Linked DNA regions of Homo sapiens: region 2 is linked to region 1. A link means that fine-mapping ties the variant in region 1 to the expression of a gene that starts in the linked region. Tissue or cell type: tibial nerve. Region 1 holds a variant in brackets; the other region holds the start of a gene. All regions are shown on one strand. Distances are between the middles of the regions.

What was found. PIP is the estimated chance that this variant, and not a neighbour inherited with it, causes the effect.
Region 2: it holds the start of LHCGR, and the variant in region 1 is fine-mapped to the expression of LHCGR in tibial nerve (GTEx, PIP above 0.99).

What each region holds. Positions count from the first base shown.
Region 1 is chr2:48,802,557-48,810,682 of GRCh38, reverse strand. It overlaps LOC105374594 (a long non-coding RNA gene), which reads right to left. Exons shown (of 4, transcript XR_001739460.2): 2 at 2,984-3,023; 3 at 1,414-1,565; 4 at 1-1,116. Among named protein-coding and RNA genes, the nearest start is that of LHCGR, 51 kb to the right of the region's middle. The variant A/G (reference allele first, on the strand shown) is at 4,396.
Region 2 is chr2:48,751,995-48,760,120 of GRCh38, reverse strand. It overlaps LHCGR (luteinizing hormone/choriogonadotropin receptor), which reads left to right and starts at 4,397. Exons shown (of 11, transcript NM_000233.4): 1 at 4,397-4,610. The coding sequence starts at 4,450. All of the region lies in intron 10 of STON1-GTF2A1L (STON1-GTF2A1L readthrough), which reads right to left. RefSeq lists an enhancer at 4,063-4,839.

The sequences.
Region 1 (8,126 bases):
AGGAGACATGAGGATCAAGAATAGGGACTCCAACACAGGAAAGAGGTCAAAAGAATCTTAAGATGATAACTGGGCAGCAAACTGAGATAGCAGCTCGTCCACATTTGGAGTAGTTGACTAGAGGCTCCCAGGGAGATGTCTCCTACAGGAATAAAGGAACTATTTGATTACTTCATGTGTTTAAATGGAGTAAAACGAGTTTTACAGCTTTAGTGAAATATATGGGAATGAATTATTGATAGATACATAGAAAACTAAGCAAATGATACAGGAAGTCAATTAATGATTCCAAGGAAAAGTTGCAAAAGAAAAAAATGAAGTTGTAGAACACTATGTCTCAGCTGTAAATAATATTGACAAAGTCAAGATGAACAAAAATAGTGGCTTCGCTATATTGAGAGACAGAAGGAGAGACATTAAGACATTAAGGAAGTGTATAAAAGGAGTTATTTAAGAGAGCAAAATCATCATCCTTTTATTTTACCTAGTTAGCTAAACAGCAAAGAAAAGCAGCTAAGAGTTGAAAGTGGTTCCCTACCAGAGACAGAATCAGGATGAGCAGGCATGAGACAAGGAACTACTGATTTGTGTAAACCAAGTTAATTAAGATACCAGTAGCAGGGAACTGGACTAACGGTGGCTTACTATGTGAGGATACTTGTTGTTTACTTTTTCAAAAAATGTACAGAAATAGATGGGCTTGGAAGCTCAGTGACATCACTGAGGACTCATTGCTTTCCAGCTTTCTGCTCCACCATCCTCAGTGTGTTGCTTTTCAACCTTGTTCACTCAGGGCTGCAAGGTGGCTGCCACAGATGCAAACATTGTGTTCACAGGCAGATCATGGGAGACAGATTGCCCGTGACTGAGCAAGAAAGTTGTCTTCATGTAACTCTTCCCTCTCATTAGTGAATCAGTTAGGATTAGTTTTGATAATGAGTGATAGGGACCCAAAATTAGAATGTCTAGAGCAAGGCAAAATCTTGTTCTCGCCACTCTAGAGGAGGTAGGTTGTCCAGGATTGGTATGAGGTTTACTTACTCTGTGATCCCTTCAGAAAACAAGCCTCCATCTCTCTTGTCATTCTACTAGTCACAGCTTCCTTTCTCAAGGTGACTTCATAGTTCCAGAAGGTTACAGCAGCTCCAGCCATCATGTCAACATTACAGCCAGCAGGATGGAGGAATGAGGAATAAAAAGGACACATGAGAGCTTTCTTTTGACGAAATTTCCTGAAAGCTGCCACAAAACACTTTTGCTTATATCCTACTGGCCAGGATTTAGTCACAAAGCCACAACTAGCTAGAAAAGACACTGGAAAATGCAGTATTTATTCCTAGTAGCCATATGCACAGCTAAAACTTAAAAGTTCTAAAAAAAAAAAAAAAAAGGGAAGAACAAAATAACAGATACCTGGCAGTCTTCACCACAATTAGAAAGGAAAATATCTTTCCTGGAAGACCCTGAGTAGAGTCCACCTTACATCTCGTTAGCCGAAACTGGGTCACATGGCCACCTCTGCCTATGAGAGAGGCTGGTGATGGGAGAATCTGGACTTTCATCCTCTGCAGTAGAAAGCAAGCAACAGAGACAGGGGTTGAGAATGGCTGCAAATAGCCAAACAAGTGCCTGCCTCACAAATCTTGTAGCACAATTTGACCTTAAAGCTATATACACATATTACTTTTATGTTTTAATGTCTATAAATTTTAAAATGTATATAAATAACAAATAAGTAAATTTGTTTTTATGGGAAAACTTGTCAAGATCTGCTGCCACACTCCCTCCATCTTCTTAGTGAATAAATAAAAGAAAAAAGTTACAAAGTCAAAATACATACACACAAATAATAGCAATGGCTATTCATATAGTCTGTTTATGTCATGCTTTGCCACATTGATTCTGTCATTTATTCAACAAACATTTATTGAATGCTTGCTATGTACAAAGGTATATGGACATGACTGAGTCTCAGTTCATGCCTTCAAAAAGGTCACAGGTTTGAAGGAGAGAGACACAAAGCCCATTTTTTACAATACGGCATGACAAGCACTAGGTTGGAGGATTGCAGGGGATGACAATTGCAACAACCCAGAGAAGGGCCATTGAAGTTGGCCCAGCAGACAGGGGAGGCTTCCCTGAGGAGGTAATTTTTGAGCTGTTTTGAAAGATAGGCAGAAATGTGCCAGGAGATGAAAAGGGCATGGAAAGGACATCAAGCCACAGAAGAATGAACACAAAGGCATGCATCACATTATAGCTAGGAAGAATAAGCCACATTATTACCCTGTCTATCACAGATATGAACAGGTAAGCATGCAATTTACATTTAACAAACATTTGGTAGAGTGAATCAAGAGGAATAGCAACTCTCTTAATCTACTTCAGCTTAACTAGTACTCTAGATCAGGAGTTGGCAAACTATGGCCCTCAGGCCAAATCCCATCTGCTGCCTGTTTTTGGAAACAAAGTTTTATTGGGATATAACTACACTCATTCATTTACACATTGTCTAGGGCTGCTTTTGTGCTATGATGGAAGAGTTGAGTAGTTGGCCATAGAAACTGTAGAGTCTTGCAAAGCCTAAAACATGTACTACGTGGTCCTTTATGGAAAAAGTTTGCTAACCCCTATTCTAGATGAGCTGATATCCTTCATTCCCTTTAAAACATACAGCACTCTGAGCTCAAAGCTAACAAGTAATAAATAATAATATATCCTTGCATCCCACCAATTTAGTTATATTCTTTCCAAGAGTAAATTGTTCCCAAATGTGTTTTGTCAGTTTCATGTGTTGATGTAAATATCTAATTCAATAAAATATTGTGTATATTAATAAAATGAGTGTGAAAAGGAAGAATGTTTCTATTTTAAAAATTAAGCAGAATACATTGAAAAATATCCATCACACCATGCTAATAAAAGTTATCAGTGAGTCAGATGTGAATGAGACAACTATAATTATAAAATATTAAGATTTTACCTTGCAAGTGTGTATAACTTTCACTCCATGTTTTAAAACCCTAAAATTAGAAATCAGAGATGATGCATTTAGGGGAGATGTTTATACAAGAAAGACAACACAAAATTACGATTAGCAATACATCCTTAGAGAGCAGTCTTGGCTCAACATCAACTGACAGGAGTTCCCCTAAAAACTCAGATTAAAATTAAACTAAATATTTTAAGTAAGTAAGTGAGTGATTAAGCAAATAGTATGTAGATAAATATTAATGTATATTTACTGGATTCTTTTTAAAATGATTCCATGACTTAACCAACTCTTTACTGTAAGGAGAGGAAAAGACAAAGTAACTGTGTTTGTTTGTGTGAACAGAGACATAAGATTTCAACTCCCTAAATTTTCTGGGGCCCATCTTGTTCTGCAAGACTCATCTCTCAACCAACCACTGCCTTGACCCCAAAAGGGGTCCAGCCTATGGGCACCCATTGCTGCCCAGTGCCAGCTCCTGAGAAAGTCAGACAAACAGGACTCAGACCTCACACTCCTGGCTCTGGATCAGAAAGGAAGAATGAGCTGACACTGGCCCCATGATGAGCAGAAATTAATTACCAGGTTAGCCTGTGAAAATGTCAACTCATTAAATCCCCAAAGTGCGACATCTAAGCTCTGACAAGCGATCTAGGAAATAAAATGGAAAAAAATAAAACAGCCCCTCTTCCTTACAAGTTACACAAATTCAAAGTTCAGAAAACTTTTTCTTTGGTCTCTTTGCCCGTCACCTCATAGAACCTTGGATCCACCTTTAATCTGGAGCTTCAAACAAATCCCTGCTTCCTTAGGGCTCTAAAAATAATTGTGTTCCTTGTGGTACATTAACTCTTTTCAAAAGAATAGTCAAATTGCTCATAAAACAGCTGGTTATTTTCTCAAGATCCTTGATTAAACCTTGTTTTTTCAGAGAAGCCTATTTGGTTTTTTTCTAGCTAATTTCCCCTCTGCCCCCAAAGGCTATCCCTTCCAGAGAAAGAAAAAATGCTTCTTATTCAGTTTTCCATCCTGGAATCACAGCGGTGAGCAATGTGACATCAGATATGGCATTAAGAAATCTTGAGCCCACCAGGAAGCTCCCTAAAGAAGGGCCATGTTCTCCAGAGTCATCCTGGGCTCTCAGGCTCTCCACCACCACCAAGGACAGAGCTATGCAGGCAGGAGATGCCCCAAAAACACACACTGAAGATGAGGAACAAACAATGATGAAAAATCCAGGACCCAGACTCCATATAAACCTGCCCTCCAACTAAGTCAGTTTCCAAAGACATCATTCTTCCTCTTTCTAAACCTCTGCCCACATTGTTTGCCCCCACCTCCATCCCCAAATTTCCAATGCAGGTCACATTTCACCTTTTCTTCAAAATCTTTTCTTAATACTA[A/G]GTGGGGCCCTCTGACATTCTCCCTGCCTCACCCATCTATCACTATTTGGTATGAACATTTATTGTGATCATTGGCTTAAATTCAATCCAGCACTATTTTCTATTCTGTCTTCTAGATTCCAACTTACCCATGTCACATCTGAGAGCAAGGCCGTGCCTTATTCCTCCTTTTTCTCTTGCATTGTATTCAGCAAAACAAAGTATTTTGCAAAACATGTTTTCTTTTCCTTCTCACTTACCTACCGTCTTTTCACAGCCCCCAAATAGCAACCAGTGTCCTTTGAGTGGAAGCCCTACTTGGGCCAATTCCTTAAGCATAGGAACCATATGAATACAAAGCTTCCAAAATGCTTCGTACTAGGAGTCCATGAATTAACAACCCCAGAATCTCATATTCTATGCCATAACATAATTATGTTTGCTTATGAATAGAGGAAACAAAATTGCCCTCTCAAACTCAGGTGTAGTGGGCAGTCTGTATGGTGGTATTCACCTTACAGACTGGTATTCATGCCCTTGTACAATTTCCTGTCTTTGTATATGACCTGTACCTACCAACTTACTTCTAATTAATAGACTGTGGCAGAGCCATGGAATGCCATTTTCGAGATTAGGTTACAAAAAGACTATGCCCCTGTATTAGTCTCTCTTTCTCTCTCCCCACACCTTGCCTTTTCTTTTCCCCAGTCTATCCCCCTCTCTTCTCCCTCTGTCTCTGTCTGTCTGTCTGTCTGTCTGTCTCTGTCTCTCTCCCTCTCTCAGCCTTTTCTCTAAGGTAATCAAGTTGCTATGTTGTGAGTAATAGCTCTGTGGAGAGGTCCACAGAGCAAGGAAATGAGGTCTCCAGTCAATATCCAGAGAAGACTTGAGGCCTGATACATGACTGAGCTTGGAAACAGATCTTCCCCCAGTCAAACTTTGAGATGACTTCAGTCCCAGCTGACACATTGATTGCAATCTTATGAGAAACCATGAGCCAGCGACATCTAACTAAACATTCAGTTTTGTTTTGTTTTGTGACAGGATTTTACTCTGTCGGCCAGGTTGCAATGCAGTGGGGCAATATCAGCTCACTGCAATCTCCGCCTTCCAGGCTCAAGTGATCCTCCCACCTCAGCCTCCCTAGCAGCTGGGACTACAGGCACATGTCACCACCCCTGGCTGATTTTTTTTTTTTTTTTTTTTTTCTGGTGGAGACGAGGTTTCACCATGTAGCCCAGGCTGGTCTTGAACTCCTGAGCTCGAGCAATCCACCCACCTCAGCCTCCCAAAGTCCTGGGATTACAGGGTTTGGTATTTTAAGACACCAAATTTTGGGGTACACAGCAATAAATAACCAATACACCAAGTTTTCCACAAACATTAGATTTTTTTTCTGCAAAACTAAATCTAATGTAGGCCCCCTCCTCTCTATGCCAGATTGGCAAGAAATTATCTTATTCAATCCTGTAACTCTATATGCACATCTATATCTCCCAGAGTACTATCAAAGTCTCAGGGTATTTGGGACAGGGTATTTGAGGAAGGGCCTTCAGTCCTTGGTTTGTACTGGTTACCACTACTAGGCTCATTGCCCAGCTGTGCATGGCCCTTGGAGTTAGCGGGTGAAGAAGCTCCACACATTCCCTGCCAAGCCTCTGCTCTACCACTGGGACTTTTGCTGAGGCTAGAGCCCAGCACTCAAGGCCAGCCTACCCTCTGCAGTTCTCAGTTGCCAATCAGGGATAGGGGCATCCGGGCCCCTCATAGCCCTGCATCCCTTCCCAGGCTTCTCAGAATCTCCTTTCTCTGTCAGTTCCAACTCTTTTCTTCACATCTCTCCATCCCTGCATATACATACACATGCCCTTACACAATTTCAAAGAGTTTAGAGTTTTGAGAAAGCCTGAAAGATAATTATCTTCAAGCTGCTACTGCAACAAGAACACAATGGCCTTCTCAGAATTCAGGAAAATTTTTAAAAAAAATTGTTCTCATTCTTTCTGATGCTTCCACGCCCTCAACCAAAATACAAATTAAGGTTTCAATAAATAATCTCACTGCACTTATTTTCCCCACATATTCAAGAAGAGATTTATGCTCCAAAAAGGGTTGCCATGTTTACCCTAAGGTTTGTAATACCTTCCAGCACTCTGCAGTGAACCACCACCTACCACCTCCCAACACACACCACCACACACACAGCACTGTAAGCAGCTCAATAATGGTGGAATGAGAGACTTCCTAGTAGGAACCTACTTCTTCCAAATCTCCCTCACTCTATTAAAGAATAGCCCAAGCAACCAGCCACAAGGCAGGCATCATGCAGGCATAATTGGAATAAGCTTCTACTAATTGTGTGTGATTTAAGTTGAACCAGGGAAGTCTCTCAGACACAAAATATCTTCCTAGTGGCCTGTAACAATCACTAAACTTCATTTTTAGAGCCTGGCTCATTTGGGTTTAAAGCATTGTTACTCCAAAGTTAAATTATCTATTATGCTACTTTTAGCCAGGAGCACCTTCTTGGAATTTAGCTTATCAGTTCTTTTCTAAGAGTCAGCTTATTGAAAAAAAGAGTGGGTTCTGCTATAAATGGAGGAAGAGGAATAAAGAGGTTTTGAACAGCAGCAGTGAAGGCATCTTGACTGCTCGAGGCAGTCATTGGGAGTGGGATGAGTAGAAAAATGCTCCTTATTACTGTAAATGTGTCACGACTATTGGGGTTATAATACATTATATTCTGTTATGGTTACTCCATGAAGACTGATTTTTCTATGAAGGCCTCCCCTGTAACTAGATACGGCCTCATGAAGGGTCATTGTTAGTGTTCAGTAATAAAGGTATACGCTAATGTACGAGAAGAAACCAGAAATGAAAGATCTAGACATCAGAGTCTAGATGTCTGGGTGGATATCCATAGGTGGTATGTACAAAGATAATGTCCTCCCCATAAAGAGAGACCAGGCTGGGTCTCTTCCCAAAGATACCTGAAGAATACGGTAGGAACTGTCTGCACTCAAAAAAGATCTATTTATAAAGAAAATTTCATAGTGTTCTTTGTATGGTAGTTACTTGACCCTCAGCTTGTGAGAGACCAAATCAGTTGAGCAACTGCCTGAAATGTCCCTCTTGAAGGGGCTACAACACTGCCAGAAATTCAGCAAGGAGTAAATTGTATTTACTGAAGCTCCTCTAAAAGAAAAAGCGTACTGATTGAAAATAATTTGGGAGGGAAAGATTGAGAGAGACCCTGAGGGTCAGGTCTTCCAAAAATGGTAAAACTGGTTAATCACTGGACTTTTGATTTTCTGAATTGGGTATGAAGATGTGGGTTAGTGGTTAAATTACTCAGGGATCATCAAGGAAAGGCTAAGTGCTACTATCATGAGTATTTCTCTCTGCTCCCCAAATACATCACTTGCAAAGACATATCAGATGGAAGAACACCACACTACTATCCTGCTTGTGGGCTTAGGTCTACCTGTCCTACTCATGAGAAAGTCTAGTCTTAGTTCAGCTGGACTACTGAGAATCAAGGGAAAGGAAACTTGTATCTCACTTGGATCAGTGTACTCGTGAGGCCACTTGTGTTGGTCTCATCCAAGAAACAAACCGCAAAAACAAGATAAATCTATGAGCAGTCCAATCCCCGAAGCCCTACCCCACAGGAGATTCTCCTCCATATAGGGCCAACTTCAGAAGAGCTAGAGTTTGCTGCCATTAACTAGGAAGGTATCATTTCCTTCCAA
Region 2 (8,126 bases), 51 kb after region 1:
TAGTTGTTGCCAGCACAAACAGGCTTTTTCCATGAGACAAGAAGGACAGCAGCCCCTAATTCATTCACATCCTTCCAGCAACATGACCAAAAAGGCAAGGCCCCTTCTCCAACTCTCTCTCTCCATCAGCCTTAGAGTAGGATTCTCATGCCCCAGACCAATCATCACATTCCAATTACCAGCCCAGCTTCCTATCATCCTGCAGCTTCAAACTCCTGCTGAGGCCCACAAGAACCCCAGGGCTGTGTGGGAGGTGGCACAGATGATCGCAGCTCTGATTTTACATTATGTAGACAGTGAAATGGAGATGAAAATTCTAAACAAGCAATAAAGAATTTGCATGAAATTTTGGAGTGTAACTTTCATGGACTGTCTTTTTTATTCTCCTTATTTTGTTTTGTTTAGTTTTTTTACCCCAGGTAAAAAGGTGAACAGCTCAGAGATGTAACTGTATTTTTCTCTTCTTAAGCAATTTTTTCTTCCTCTGCCTACATTCACCTTTTCTTCCAAGGGAAAGGTAAAACCACTGCTTTTAAGTGAGAAGAAATACCAGTTATTATACTAACAGGGTATGTGTTCAATAATCAAAAAACCTTGCCTATTCTACTTAAGGTTTTAAAAATTACTTTGCTAATCCCATTACTGGGAATACCCAAAGGATTATGAATCGTTCTACTATAAAGACACATGCACATGTATGTTTATTGCAGCACTATTTACAAGAGCAAAGACTTGGAACCAACCCAAATGCCCATCAATGATAGACTGGATAAAGAAAATGTGGCTCATATACACCATGGAATACTATGCAGCCATAAAAAAGAGTTTATGTCCTTTGCAGGGACATGGATGAAGCTGGAAGCCATCATTCTCAGCAAGCTAACACAGGAACAGAAAACCAAACACCACATGTTCTCACTCATAAGTGGGAGTTGAACAATGAAAACACATGGACACAGGGAGGGGAACATCACACACTGGGGCCTGTTGGGGGATGGGGGGCAAGGGGAGGGAGAGCATTAGGACAAATACCTAATGCATGCGGGGTTTAAAACCTAGATGGCGGGTTGATAGGTGCAGCAAACCACCATGGCCCAGGTATGTCCATGTAACAAACCTGCACGTTCTGCACATGTATCCCAGAACTTAAAGTAAAAATTTTTTTAAAAATTACTTTGCTAATGTCTTTCAACTCCAATGTGTTAATGTAACTTCAGATGCTATTGAGTTTTGACCTAGGGTGGCATAAAGAAAATAGATTCCATGATTTTGCAACATGGCTCATTCCATAAATAAATAAATAAATTTCAGCAATATAACCAATTAAATAATTTTAGACATTTAAACACAGGTATACAGAATATACTATTTCTATGCTTATACATATCAAGGTTTCTTTTAAGATGCATCAAAATTATTAGGCTTCACTCAAAGTCCTTAATAAAGATTCTTGAGCTTTGTTTTCTTCAGGCAAATTTAATTCTAGGATTACCATTTTTGTATTCCTCAAATTGTGCTCTAGGACTACATGCATCAAAATTACACGAGAAAGCTTGTTAAAATGCAGATTATTGGACCCCACTCTATATCTATGGAATCAGAATCTCATAGGGAAAGTTCTAGGAATCTTCGTATTTAAAGCTTTGCAAATGGTATTTCTGCACCCTAAAATATGAGAAGCTCCATTCTAAAACTTTGGAGAGTTTTAATTGCAATTTCTGAGTTACGGTGTCAGTATGTTTTTCTATCTCTAAAGTAGGATAAAATATTTGTGAATTCTGTGAACTTTATTTTGTCATTAAAATGTAATCAGCAATCTTTGTGGGTCATGTTGGTTTGAAGTTCTCTGACAAAGTAGCTATAAGCATAGTTAATGAAACAAAGTCCTTTGGATTTAAAAATACTCACTCATAATGAGTATTAATGAATAAGATAGGTAAATTCCATTGTAACAAACTTTTGTGATTATAACAAATGAATCAATATGATTTTATTATAATAGTTACATTGCAAGAACTGATGTGATAATTAAGATCCAACTGAAATTAATCTAGATAGTAAAATTTTATGAAAACTCATTACAGTTGTTAGCTTTCTTCCAAACGAACAACCTCAACTCCTCATAAACAGGATTTTATTTCCAATCCAAGACAAGTTATAAGAAGTCAATATATACAATCCAATTCCTCCCACTAGCAATTCTGTAGGAGCTGCTTAGAAAGTCCTTGCATCTTTAGAGCCAGAAGAGCCTTAGGGATAGTGAACTTCAACCCTTCTTCTTACAGATGAAGAGACTGAAGGGCAAATCTCATGATTGACAGCAGAAACAGAAGGAAAATCCTAGTGTTCTGATTGCCTAGTCCTCCTACTGGAGTACAGAATTAAATGATTCTTCTGGAATATCCATTGTTTTCAAAGATTCAGGGGTGGGTGGGAGCAAACTTTTTTTATATATAACAGGTACACTACAGGGTTAAAAAAAGAAAAAAGTCACATAAAACATGAGACTTGAAAGAAAAGCCATTCAGGCACCTTGAGTTATTCATTCTTTCTCTCCTTCCATTCAAGATACATGGTGAAAACTTTTAAAAATCCCAGTGCCTACCCCAACTTCCCTACCAAAATCTGACAAAACTAAAAGAGAACAGAGAACATGACACCCAAAGTCGTCATGTATAATTACTTTTTACATATCCAGATAGATCCAGCGTGGTTGAGAATAAAGCAAGTGAGGGTATCAAGCTCTTCTCAGATAGTTTACTGAGCATCTACTACAAATCTGGGCCTCACTTATTCACTCTATTATTCAACAGACACATATGGAACACCTACTAGGAGCTAGAAGCTATGACATGCTCTGTTGATATTGAGATGAATAGAGAGGGGAAAGCAAAATTAAACCCACAATTACAGTGTGTTAGATTACCTGCTGTAGAACCAGGTGTTATGGCCACAACTACTCAACTAGGATGACTCAGAGAAGAATCAAAGTGGAAATGACATTGGGCTGAGTCTTGAAGGACAACTGGGAGTTTATCTAATGGAATAATGGAAAAAGAAGAGAAAATAGTGGGGACAGCCCATGCAGAGGTATTAAAGGGTGAGGAGTCATCTATAAGCAGTTGAAGAGAGGATCCAGAGAAGACAATATTATAGACATGAGCATTGTTTTTGTGCCATCTAGCACAATGTGGCCAAAGCCAAACAAGTTTTTAAAATAATAATAATCTACCCTCCTTGAGCAACAGACTGTAGAATGGTGAATGAAGGAGCCCATCCTTGAGAACTGGCTTCAGAGTGAAAGAAATCTATTCTTATATTTCCTCTCTTCAAAGCCTTAAATGCCTTCCCAGCTTTCAAAGTCCACCTCTTCCAGCAAAACTGCTAGGATTTCCAGAATCCAAACAGAATCCTTGGAAGGAAGAAATGATCAAATCAAAGAGGGGATATTATGGATCCCCATGATTACCGTAAAATTTTGTCTCCTAAGTTCTTTGGTATGTAGATCATAGCAGCTTTTTGCATTGGTGAGAGGTGGTAGGTGATAGACATGAGTTCCAGGTTTCACTACTTTAAAACCGTGTGACTTCAGGGAAGCCACATACCTCTTGGGACATTTTTCTCATCGCAAACACCCTGCTAGTTCAATGTGGAGCTTAAACATGATGTGAGGCAGAGCACCTGTTACAAGGTCTAGCCTATCCTGGGCCTTCTATGGGGCAGCTGCTACCAGTATTAGGCAGTTTCATTCATTCATTCAACAAATCTTTACTGAGGACTTACCATGTAGAAGCCAGAAGGAATACAAAAATAAATCTGAATTGGATTTTGCTCTCAAGGACCTCCCAATCTATAGAAGAGATACAGGACCAAGCCAAATAGCTATACCATAAATAAGAAAGCATTTACCACCAAGAGAAATTACTGGGGTAGTTGGGAGGATGGGCAAAGATTACTTGTAGAGTGGAGGGATTTGGTGAAAGAGAAGGGGAAAGGATTAGGGGTTGAGGATAAAAGAGAGGAAAAATGTCTGAGCCAGGCACTCTTACGCCTTCTGATGTGGGTATAGCGAGTATCCATCGGACCCTTTCACAAATGAAATAAAAGGGGTTCCGGGAAGCGTCACAACTCACTCAATTCAGAACTCCCCACCTCTAATCCAAAACATTTGCCATTAAATCTCTTTACCTCCTATAGCTAGGGCCATTTGCAGATGGTAGGGGACAAGACAGGGGAAAGTAGCAGGAAGGAGGTTATTGGGTCACTGGGCACTGTCGCAGGTCAAGGCAGAGCAGACTCAGCGGGGTGCGCGGTAAGAGGGGGAGGGCAGGGGCGGGCCGGCAGGGAAGGGTGTGTGGAAGGGCAGCCAAGGGGCGGGGAGAGGGGTGCGGGCCGCACTCAGAGGCCGTCCAAGACACTGGCAAGCCGCAGAAGCCCAGTTCGCCGGCCATGAAGCAGCGGTTCTCGGCGCTGCAGCTGCTGAAGCTGCTGCTGCTGCTGCAGCCGCCGCTGCCACGAGCGCTGCGCGAGGCGCTCTGCCCTGAGCCCTGCAACTGCGTGCCCGACGGCGCCCTGCGCTGCCCCGGCCCCACGGCCGGTCTCACTCGACTGTGAGTACACAGCGCTCCCGTCGCGGCGCCCTTGATGCAGGACCCTCCATCGCTCTATGCCACCTTCCCTCCCTACTCCTTTGGCCCCCTTTCCCTGGAAGCTTGGAGAAAAACGCTTTGCCCTATCAAATTTCCCCCACGTTTTAGGGTGATGAGAACCCAAAACTTGGTGGTTGTTTTTACCACCCCATGCCTCTGAGAGCCCCAGCCCCATTCTTTACCCCTGGTTGGGGCTGTGGCCGGGGGAGTAGAACTATTCAGGAACCTCAGGGGAAGGCCTGCTCTCTGCCGCTGCTTGAAGGGAATATGGGTGTGACGCTCCTCAACTCCTCTGGCAGGGGTCTCTGCCAGAGAAGTCTTACAGGCCTTTGAGCCTTGGGCCAGCCACGTCAGGGAAGGTGAATGTGAGCTCTGGCACCCTGTGGTCCTCTAGGAATGGAGTGCTCAGGCCCTATGGCCAAGGGTGACCTAATCTGTCAACTGACTGCTGGCAGTCACACGGGCATCTTAGTGAGCACACAAGCCGCTGCTCCACCGTGCCCAGATGTGCTTGAACTTCAGTCTCATGGTCTAATGGACCAAAGGCCCTGTGCCCTGCCGCTGGCACCCGCGCACCACCTCCACACTCACAGGCCTGATTGAGGGATTGTATACATCAGCAACCTGGGGGAGGGCGTTGTTTCTGGAGTAATGGGGTAAAGAGGAGAAGGGGAGCCTTTAGTACTAGACTATCAGGGTGTCATCAGGTCTCCTTTCTCCTATTTAGAAAAAAAAGTACCACATATTTTATAATACTATTTACATGAAATGTCCAGATAAACTGAAAGTAGATTAGTAGTTACCAGGGCTGGGGAAGCGGATGGGAGGGACAGTAGGTGACTACTAATCAGTGGGTATGGGCTTGGGGCGGGGGGGTGGTGAAATTTTTGTAAAATTAGATTGTAGAGACAGTTGCGTGTGAACATATTAAAAACAATTGCATTGTCCACTTTAAATTCTATAGTGTAGGATTTACATCTCAATACAGCTGTGAAAAGAGAAAAGGAAAGAAAAGAAAGGGAAAAAAAGACAAAAGACAAGAGTATCTAAAAGGCTGGTAGAGGTCTTGATCATGTCCTAACAATTAGAGATGATGGAATTCTGTGCTGGGGAAGGAAGGAGACCACCCCCTCTGCCATTTCCTTTGAGCCCCCAACAGTCTGTCACGGGCTGTTTCATAGAGGAGACTCACCCTCCCTGCCAGGCCAGGCTTCTTCATGTGGAAAAGTTAAAGGCCTTCTGGGAATAATTGTGGTTGAGAGATACAGTTAAAGGGTTGAGGGGTTTATATTAATTAGTTTCCATTAATTATCTTGTCAGGTCCATTCCCTGAAGGAATGGACCATGCTGATAGAATTTGTTTCAATCAATCCACAAATCCATGCAACAGGCCTTCCAAGTTCCAGCCCTGGTCCGTCCCTGACAAGCATGCCATGTTGCTCTTAAGAATGACTGTACTACTAACAGACTTTCTCACTTGCCTGCTACTTATCATACAGATTAGAAGAAACTGAGATCCAAGGAGAAGGAATAACTTGCTCAAGGTCTCACAGCTATTGAATAGCAATTCAGGATTTTATCTATTAATTATCTTTTTAAATTTGCTCATCTTTGTAAGAAAAACTACTGCTTTCTTAATAAAACACACACACACACACACACACACTCAGTTTCTCCAAAATTAGTACTGAGCAAAGAACTCCCACTGGGGGCATGAATGGGTGGGCCAAGTCCCAGTTCCTTTTCAATTCAGCTTTTCAGTAAGATCTCTCAAGGGCTCCTGCTGCCACGTGCTGTTCTCAGGAGGGGACCCCCTTCCCTGGAAAAGGCTGAAGTAAATTTTTTTTAAAAATCCCACTTTCTCCTGCTGCCTTTCAGCAGGGTTTCAAGAATCCTAGAACCCCTCAAAAATATCTGATAGGGCTGACTAGGTTTGGGGGTAGAGACCCTGAGCATCCACCACCAGGAACATCCTCTGCCAGTCATTTAGCCTCCTTAGCCAAGCGTGGTGACCCTCACAAGGTTTCATTTCCTGAGCACCAGATGGTTGAGAGATGCCCTCATCTTTCAAGAGATGCCCTTGTCACTCTGTGGAGGTTGAGCCTATGCAGGCCAAAACAGGGTAACTTTTGGCACAACATAGTGACACCAACATCCATATGACAAGAGAGGTGCATGTTAAGCAAAGGGAGGGTTGTTACTTCAAGGCAATATTTCTCAAAGTATGGTCTTAGCTCAGCAGTATGAACATCACCTGGGAAATGTTAGACTGCATATTCTCAGGCCTCAGCCCCAACCTACTGAATCAGAAACTCCAGGGGTGGGGTCCAGCAGGCTACAGATTAACAAGCTCCTCAGGTGATTCTGATGCATACTAAAGTTTGAGAACCAAGGCACAGCTCTCCAGGGAGGTATCATCTTAGAGAGGAAAAAGTATATTTTAAAAGTCCTTGTGCCATACACTTCCCTTCCCCACCCCCCCCCCCCCCCGCCAAAATCCGGCATAACACCTATTTATTGCAAAAAGGCATAAAATCAAAATCCTAAACCCAGAGGCAGACGGAAAATAAGCAGAATTGAGGGAAGTTTTTTTTTTCCTCAAAGAGGACTGCAGGAAGGAATCCATGGAGGACAGACTGAAGATACAGGGAATGAGGGAGGAATGTTAATTGTCAGATCTCAATGGGGGTAGGAGGAGAGCATCAGTCTAACAACATGGGGGAAAGATTAACCTTAGAAAGAATAAGAAGTTTTGAGTCCTGAGGTAAGAAGACCTATGGGTAAAGGAATAACTCAATATTAAGACAAAGGACAGGAAAAGTGGACAGGTTCATACTGAAATCCTCTTTTCTTGATGATGAATGCATGAAATGATAAACAGTAATTATGAGACAGAAAACTGCTATGATGGCAAGTTATCAGTTCATAAAAAAAAAAAAAAAGAAAGCTTAAATTATGAGGTAAGTCTTCCAGGAGGAGAGGATGTGGTCTTGCACTACATTATCATAGACTTTGCCTCTGCAGAGAGAAGGGGAGCACTCCAAGTTCTCAGGGTTGGAGGAGGCAAGTACTGCAGAGCACCTTAGGATTCAGCATTAGTCCCTCAATAGATGTTAATTTATGCTTTAGTCATTTGGGGTCCTAGTAACCTTACCTTCTAAGACCTCCATCCAAAGTTCACTATTTGGTTTAAGAAGAAGAAAAAAAACAAGGTACATGGATTATAGCTGCTTATCACTGACAAGCCTGCTGCTTACAAATTTTGAAAATGGCATCGTTCAAATTTTTCCTCCCCTTTCATATTTTATGAAAAACATAGGTATTTAAAATCTAAAATGTGATACAAAATATAACCTCCCACATTTCACTCACTTTAATTGGGGAAAAAATGAAAGAAAAAACTGATTTAAAAAATTTCCTTTCCTTTCTTATTAGTTCTAGGCAACTGGAAAGAGGAGAAAAAAATCTCACCTTGCC